Regions from separate parts of the Homo sapiens genome. Here region 1 is reported to be linked to region 2. Evidence: microRNA targets listed by miRTarBase, many of them from high-throughput screens and not tested one by one. Region 2 holds a microRNA gene; the other region holds the end of a gene's coding sequence.

Region 1 (4,401 bases), not on the chromosome of region 2:
TGGAGGGCCAATTGCCCTCCTGGAAAAGCTATCTTCCCACTTTTAAAGTTTTCATATTAATATTCTTTAGACGTGGAAATGCCACATTTAAGAGAAATTAAACTGCTTAGTATTGTGAAAGGAAAATATCTTGGGCCCCCAAAATCACTAAGGAAATCTCAAGCTGGAAATCGCTTAGGGCAAACCTGCCTCCCATTCTATTCAAAGTCACTCCTCTATCTGTCCTTGCTATCACGAGAACAGCATGGGAAAGACCCACTCCCATGATTCAATTACCTCCTACTAGGTCCCTTTCATGATATGTGGGAATTATGGGAGCTATAATTCAAGATGAGATTTGGGTGGAGACACAGCCAAACCGTATCAGTATGTGTAGATTTCTTATTTTCCATTATTACTTAAAAGAAAGCACGTTTCTAACTCTTCTATGGTCATGTAACAACATATCCTAGAAATCACTTCATGTACAGTACATTCTTTTTAGTGCTGCGTAAACTAGAAAATCCAGAAATAAATTTCTACACCTACAGTGAGCTCATTTTCAACAAAGGTGCTAAGTATATATATTGGGAAAAGGACAGTCTCTTCAATAAATGGTGCTAGAAAAACATGATATCCACATATAGAAGAATGAAACTTCAACCCTGTTGTTCACCATATACAAAAATAAAATCGAAATGGATTAAAGACTTAAATCTAAAACCTCGAACTATGAAACTACTACAAGAAAACATTGGGGAAATGTTCCAGGACATTGGTCTGGGCAAAGATTTCTTGAGTAATACCCCAAAAGCATAGACAACCAAAGCAAAAATGGACAAATGGGATCACGTCAAGTTAAGAAGCTTCTGCACAGCAAAGGAAGCAATCAACAAAGTGAAGAGACAACCCACACAATAGGAGAAAATATTTGCAAACTATCCATCTGACAAGGGATTAATAACCAGAATATAAGAAGCTCAAACCAAATAGGAAAAAATTTAATAAATCAATTTTAAAATGAGCAAAATATCTGAATAGACATTTCTCAAAAGAGGGCATACAAATGGCAAACAGGTATATGAAAAGGTGCTCTACATCATAGATCATCAGATAAATACAAATCAAAACTACCATGAGATATCCCACTCCAGTTAAAATAGCTTTTATTCAAAAGACAGGCAATATCAAATGTTGGTGAGGATGTGGAAGGAGTGAAGGAGGGAATCCTCGCACATTGTTGGTGGGAATGTAAATTAGTAGAACCACTGCGGAGAACAGTATGGAGGTTCCTCAAAAAATTAAAACTATATCAAAGTGATATCTGCACCCTCCCCTGCAATGTTTATTGCAGCACTATTCACAATAACCAAAATTTGGAAGCAACCTAAGTATGCATCAACAGGTGAATGGATACAGGAAATGGACATATACACAATGGAGTACTATTCAGCCACAAAAAGAATGAGATTTTGTTATTTGCAACAATATGGATGGAATTGGAAGGACATTACATTCAGTGAAATAAGTCAGGCACAGAAAGACAAACTTCACATCTTCTCACTTATTTGTAGGAGCTAAAAATTAAAACAATTGAATGCATGGAGACAGAGAGCAGAATGTTGGTTACCAGAGGGAGGGAAAGTTAAGGTTGGTGGTGAGGGAAGTGGGGATGGTTAGTGGGTACAAAACTATGCTTAGATAGAATGAATAAGATCTGGTATTTGATAGCACAACAGAGTTACAGTCAATAATAATTTATTGTACATTTGAAATAACTAAACGAGTACGGATTGTTTCTAACACACACAAAAATCTGATAAATGCTTGTGGTAACAGATACCCCATTTACCCTGATATGATTATTATGCATTGTATGCCTGTATCAACATATATACTCCATATGTGTACCCATAAAAATTAGGATTTTTTTTTTTTAGGCTGAGTGCAGTGGCTCATGCCTGTAATCCCAGCACTTTGGGAGGCTGAGGTGGGCAGATTACTTGAGTGCAGTAGTTCGAGACCAGCCTGGGCAACATGGAGGAACCTCATCTCTATAAAAAAATACAAAACTTAACCAGAGGCTGTGGTGCACGCCTGTAGTCTCAGCTGCTCAAGAGGCTGAGGTGGAAGGATGGTTTGAGCCCAGGAGGCCACCACATCCAGCTAGTTGTATTTTTAGTAAAGACAGACTTTCACCATGTTGGCCAGGCTGGTCTTGAACTCCTGGCCTCAAGTAAACTGCCCACCTCAGCCTCCCAAAGTGCTGGAATTACAGGCATGACACTGCACCCAGCCCTTTGCCCATTTTTTTAATTGAGTGGTTTCTGTTATTGAGTTGTAAGAATTCTTTATATAATCTGGATAGTAGAACTCATGCTGTATGGTCTTTTCATGTTCATGACAATGTCCATGTATGCACAGCATTTTTTAAAACCTAGGTCCCATTTAGGTATTTATATTTGCTTTTGCTTATGTTGTTTCATTGAAGAATCCATTCCAAATAAAGTCAGGAAGATTTACTTCTATGTTTTCTTCTAATACTTTTATAGTTTAGCTGTTACATTAGGTCACTGATGAATTTTGAGTTAACTTTTAAGTGTAGGGTGAGGTACAATCTAACTTCATTATGTTGTGTGTCTGTGTATAGGTGTCCCAGCAGTATTGGTCGAAGAGACTATTCTGTCTCCATAAAGTAATCTTGGATCCTTCTTGAAAATCAAGTGGCCTTAGATGTATGGGTTTCTTTATGGACTCTCACTTCTATTCCATTTGTATATATATCTGCCTCCTGGGTTGAAGCGATCCTCCCACTTCAGCCTCTCCAGTAGTCTCCAGCTGGGACTACAGACATACACCAACACAACTGGCTAATTATTGTATTTCTTGTAGAGATGGGGTTTCTGATGTTCACTGAGAAATCTAAAAATAATGCATACAATTATAAAATAGAAAAATACCAGCAAATATTCACTGCTGAAGAAAATAAGAATATAATTGTAACACACTATGTATGTACACTCAAAAAAAAAATTCCAGAAACACAGAGAGATGCTTGTCTAGAAACAAAGAAAGGTATTTATTTAATTTTTTTTTTTGGAGACAGGGTCTCACTCTGTTGCCCTGGCTGGAGTGCAGTAGCACTACCATAGGTCAGTGCAGCCTCAATCTTCCAGACTCAAGCAATGTAAGGATGCAGCAAAAATACAAAGACACATGTGGCTGACATTCTAGTGGTCATCAATTTTGACATGTTCATCATTAGTGTTTTGAAAGTGTGTGAACAAACTCTTATACTAAGACCTGTCTCCTGAATAATAACTAATTGTCAAACTTCTGTTAGAAACCCTGCAGCATTCTCTGCTCTGACAGTCCCACGACCACTGGGGTATGCTGAGCTATGGCTGAAACACTAACTTCAAACTGTCCTCAATCACATGGGGAAGCTTAAAAAGCTGATTTCTTAGAAGTAGTGAGAACAGTGGCTCTAGAGGCAGGGAAGGGTAAGGGATAGGTGGGATGGCCAAAGGTTGGCTAATGGATGCAAAAGTACAGGTAGATAAGAGGAAGAAGTTCTGCTGTTCTGCAGCACTAAAGGTGACTATCATCGACAACAATTTATTTTCAAACTGCTGGAACAATGAATTTTTAATTTTCTCAACACAAAAAAGAGATAATTGAGGTGATAAATGTGCTAATTACACTGATTTGATCATTATACATCATATACATATATTTAAATATCACACTGTACCCCATAAATATGTACAACACTTACGTGTCATTTAAAAATAATGATAAAATTATATCAAGATTCAAGCGCCTCTTGTAGCGCTTCCCACAGTCTTCACATTTGGATGGATTTTCTCCACTGTGGTTTTTTTGTTGGTCTTTACGGTATGACCGGTATACAAGCTTCTTTCCACAATCCTCACATTTGAATGGTTTTTTTCGGCAATGGAGTCTCTTATGATTCAAAATACTTGAGGCCTGTCTAAAGCTCTTCCCACAGTCATCACAGTTATAAGGTCTCTCTCCTGTGTGGGCTCTATGGTGCAAGTCAAGACCTGACTTAGTAATGTAGCTCTTCCCACACTTGTCACATTTGTATGGCTTTTCTCCAGTGTGGACTCGCTGATGGATCAAAAGATAGGAGGACCGTCTGAAGCTCTTCCCACATTCTTTACAATTATATGGTTTCTCTCCTGTGTGGATCGTCTGATGCTTACACAAATCCAGCCTACGAATGAAGCCTTTTCCATATTCCCCAGTGCTGTTTGGTTTCTTTCCTGTGTGGACCACACAATGCCTATTAAGACTTGACCTAAGACGGAAGCTCACACTACATATCTCACATTTGAATGGCTTCTCCCCTGTGTGAATTCTCTGATGTTTCTGAAGCTGGAAATCATGAATGAAGGC
Region 2 (4,401 bases):
CCCCCAAGCTGCCCTGGGGGCCTCTCAGGCTCCATGTTGCTCCTGCTGGTGGAAGTTGCTGTGGCCAGCTGCCCCTGCCCTGTTCTGAGTCCCTCACAGGCAGGCTCATTTTAGCTCTCTTCACCCACCTGCAGCTTCCACCAAATTGAACCTTCCTTACACCAAGCACTTACAACAGAAAAAGAGGCCTATTTATTTGTATTTCCAGACCAAAAAATGTTGAGTGGTACCAGACACCCAGGCCTCTCTCTGTCCTCCCACTGGGGCTCTCTGTAGACTTGGCATCTTTCCCTCAGGGCACGTGGCTCCTGTCCAGGACTGGGCAGGGGACTGAGGTCAGGTCTCGGGTGTTGGATGAACAGGTTGAGGTGATTTGTGGGTGGTGGTTGAGGGGAGGGACCTACTTGGCTCAACGGCTGCCTCTGACTTGGGAGAAAATGTTTGATAAGAAGGGCATCCTTCTGACTACTGCGAAGTTACCTGTGATCGAGGATTCAGTTCAAAATTAAGCCAAACACCATCACTGTGTGACCTGCCCGTGTCAGCCAAAGTGACTGACTCCTCTTTCCCACGAGAAAGGAACATCTCAAGATTAAACAAGAGGATTCTGTACAAGCGCTGGTCCTTGCTCTGCCTTTCTGACGCTAAGCTCAAGGTTACGCAGCCAAAGGGGGAGCATTACGGAATTTCCCATGAACGCTTTCCTCCTGTGCCATCCCGCCAGAGTGACCGGGAAGTGATGGATCCCTCAGGACTACAGACATGCTGGAGGAAAAAGTTCAAAGGGCATTGTGAGCTCAGCCTTTCCTCCTAGAAGGTGCTCAAGGCCCCTCCCAAGAGAGTTGCTCTGTCTTAAATAATAATACTGCTAAGTTGCCTTCATTCGGCGCTTATTGGGTACAACATAAAATACAAGGCACTTTACTCCCAGAAACCCCATCTTACAAGTTGGAGAACTGTGTTTTTGTTTTTGTTTTTGAGACGGAGTCTCGCTCTGTCACCCAGGCTGGAGTGCAGTGGTGCAATCTCAGCTCACTGCAAGCCCCGCCTCCCAGGTTCAGGCCATTCTCCTGCCTCAGCCTCCCCAGTAGCTGGGACTACAGGCGCTCGCCACCATGCCCGGCTAATTTTTTGTATTTTTAGTAGAGACGGGGTTTCACCATGTTAGCCAGGATGGTCTCGATCACCTGCCCTTGTGATCCGCCCGCCTCGGCCTCCCAAAGTGCTGGGATTACAGGCGTGAGCCACCGCGCCCGGCCTGGAGAACTGTGTTTTAAAGAACGAAGTCATTTGCCTGTGGACACCCAGCTGGGAAGTTAGTAGAGCTAGAATTCTGGTCCAGATCCACCTGACTCTAAAGCCACAAGGTCCCACGGGGCCACCGTGCCTTCCTCTCTCAGCCTGGTAACTGTAAACCCAGTCAAAGCGGATGAGGGAGGAGTCCAATGGAAGCTAAGGTCCCATCACTGCTGCTGTGCAGCTGGAAGGCCCTCCCTCAGAGCAGCTGCTTGTTGGGTCAGAGGCCCAGTGTGAATTACTGGGAACATCCTCTTAGGCCACGTTCTCAAGTCCCCTTCACCCCAAATGAAAGTGTTGGCATTTTCTACCGGCCACCCCCACCTTCTGACCACAAAGCCATCTGTAACCTAACTTGATCGTAATTAGATTTTTAGCACATAATTACAAGATTAATGGATTAATCATAATTTATTTGCAAATCATTAAAAACATTACTCAAAAACACTTTCCCTAAAGATTGTTTGGGTTGCCCAGGGCAAGATAATTAACGAGACAGAGGGGAAAAAATGAAAAACACACAACCGTCAATCTCATTAAAGATGATCAAATAAACCGTCAAGTTAGCTGAGCAAACTGTGCAGCCTGTGGTGGGGCTGAGAAACCTGGTCTGTTCCTTGGTGCTGAATTGGCTCTTCAGGCACCATGTGAATGAATTACTCTGCCTAAATACTTTCCCATCTTTCTTTTTTTCCGGAACAGCCTCCATTTGATGGTGAAGATGAAGACGAGCTATTTCAGTCTATCATGGAGCACAACGTTTCCTATCCAAAATCCTTGTCCAAGGAGGCTGTTTCTGTCTGCAAAGGAGTAAGTCGATTTGGATACCTTTTGTGATCATGGACCAAGAGCTTTGGTAGGAGAAATACTTTCCCCACACTTCTAAGAGAGATGGCAGAAACACCACAAACCCACACCACTGCATTTTGGCCATCGAGGGTTGGGGCTTGGTGTCATGCCCCAAGATAACCAGCACCCCAACTTTGGACAGCATGGATTAGTCTTGGCCTGTTTTGAACTCTGCACAAACCGAACCTTGTAGTGTTGCTCCTGGCCTGGCTGCTTTCACTCAATATGGTGATTGAGGATTTAGTTCCTCCTTTCATATTGCTATGCAGTGTTCCACTGTGTGAACACACCATCGTTTCCTTATCCATTCTACTGGGCAGGGCACAGTGGCGAAAGTGAAGGCCAAGAGAATGGATTGGAATCCCAATACTTCCTGGGACTCTGGCCCAGTCACCTAATGACTGTACCGCACTTTTCATTCTAATCCATTTCATAAAATTGTGGTGGGGACTACCAGATGTCATCAGAGTCCCTTAGAAAGTATGTGCTCTCGTCTCCTGTCTTACTTGGTGTGACTTAGTTCTTTCTTTGCTACACTTTTCTTGAGCTATAGCATACATACAGCAATTGGCACAAATCATCAATATGCTGATAAATGAATCTTCACAAAATGAATCCACCCATGTAATTGCACCCAGCTCAAGAAACCATGTTTCCACCACCCTGGAAGCCCTCTCCTGTCCCATCTACAGTCACTACCCCGCCCCAAGATAACCTGCCCCCCAACTTTGGACAGCATGGATTAGTCTTGCCTGTTTTGAACTCTGCACAAACTGAACCTTACAGTGTTGCTCCTGGCCTGGCTGCTTTCACTCAATATTGTGATTGAGGATTTTGTCTGCATTGCTGTGTGGGGCCATAGTTCCTCCTGTCATATTGCTGTGCAGTGTTCCACTGTGTGAACACACCATCGTTTCCTTATCCATTCTACTTCTGGTGGCTATTTGGATTGTTCCTGCTTTGGTTTGAGGCTGTTACAAACAGAACTGCTGTGAACCTTCTGGGGCATGTGTTTTGGTGAAGATATGCACACACTTTGGTTGAGGAAATGCTCTAGGAATAGAGTTGCTGGTCATGACTTGTCTAGTTTTGAATGGTCAAGAGTTAGATCACAAAGCTATTTTCAGGCTTAGTAAGATGGAGTACAATATACCCTTAACAGTATCTGGTGAGTGTGATCATTTGTGAGGCATTTGTCACGTGTCATCCAAGAGCAAGGCACTTGGAAGAGATACTGAGATCGGGAGGAACTGGCTTCTGCCTTCAGAGAGTTCATAGACAGTGTTTGTCTCTGTGTCCTGCAGTGGGCAAGTCGGAATTAACTAGTCGCCTTCCTTGTTATAGCATTTATTTTTCTAATCTATGAGTCTTTGATTGATAACATTTTGGCCCAGACAATACGTAGACATATGATGCTTATTATGGCATCCTCTGTGATGCTAGACTGTGATGCTTTCAGCACACACAATTTTTAGTGATTGCATGCTTTTTTTTTTATTACTAGATACATGTATAGCATGGTGTCTCCAAAACAGACAACGTGTGAGATGTCTGTTTAAATTCTTCTTCCATTTGGCCATGGGTTCAGATTGCTTCCTTGTTCCCTTGTCTTGAAAACCACCATAGGAAGGGCTATTCTTGCCAATGTCATTTTTGTGAGTTGGCTTCACTTCGTACAAGCCACTGAGTGTCTTGGTCAGCTCTCTGAGATGCTGTCCAGGCGTCCACAAAGTCAGGGCTGTAGGCAGAGCTAGGCAAATGGAAGGTGCTGTCTGTGGGAAGCCCTTGACATCCATTGTTCTCCTTTTCTCCTTTTCCTTTCTAGCTGATGACCAAACACCCAGCCAAGCGGCTGGGCTGTGGGCCTGAGGGGGAGAGGGACGTGAGAGAGCATGCCTTCTTCCGGAGGATCGACTGGGAAAAACTGGAGAACAGGGAGATCCAGCCACCATTCAAGCCCAAAGTGGTGAGTCCAGAAAAGCAGCCTGTTTTCGGAACCCCATGTCCCCAAATTCTGGGAGTATCCCACTCACCTCTTTTCTTGGAGAGAGGAGGCCGGTGCCCCTGGCTTGTACAGGGTGAGGAAACGGGCCAGGTTTCAGCCTTGTCCTCAGTCCTGTGGCCTCAGCAGCCGGGATTCCTGCTGCCTTCAGAGAGTAAGGACCGATAAGGCAGGGAGGGGAACCCTGTGCACACTTCATCCTCCAGCTGGACAGCTGCAGAGCACCCCCGCACGACTAGGGAGTGAGGGCAGCT

The links. Region 2 holds the annotated microRNA hsa-miR-634 (AACCAGCACCCCAACUUUGGAC, at 2,264-2,285, shown strand). A microRNA usually pairs through its seed, bases 2 to 8, with sites in the 3' UTR of a target mRNA and lowers its output. Matches are read on the target gene's strand: a 7mer-m8 pairs with bases 2 to 8, a 7mer-A1 pairs with bases 2 to 7 and ends in A, and an 8mer does both.
Region 1: the mRNA of ZNF223 is a reported target of hsa-miR-634. The part of its 3' UTR that is shown has no 7-base or 8-base seed match.

What each region holds. Positions count from the first base shown.
Region 1 is chr19:44,066,630-44,071,030 of GRCh38, reverse strand. It overlaps ZNF223 (zinc finger protein 223), which reads right to left. Exons shown (of 5, transcript NM_013361.6): 5 at 3,032-4,401. The coding sequence ends at 3,754. Among named protein-coding and RNA genes, the nearest start is that of ZNF284, 3.3 kb to the left of the region's middle.
Region 2 is chr17:66,784,869-66,789,269 of GRCh38, forward strand. MIR634 (microRNA 634) reads left to right here and starts at 2,204; the gene lies at 2,204-2,300. It overlaps PRKCA (protein kinase C alpha), which reads left to right. Exons shown (of 17, transcript NM_002737.3): 15 at 1,999-2,106; 16 at 3,971-4,111.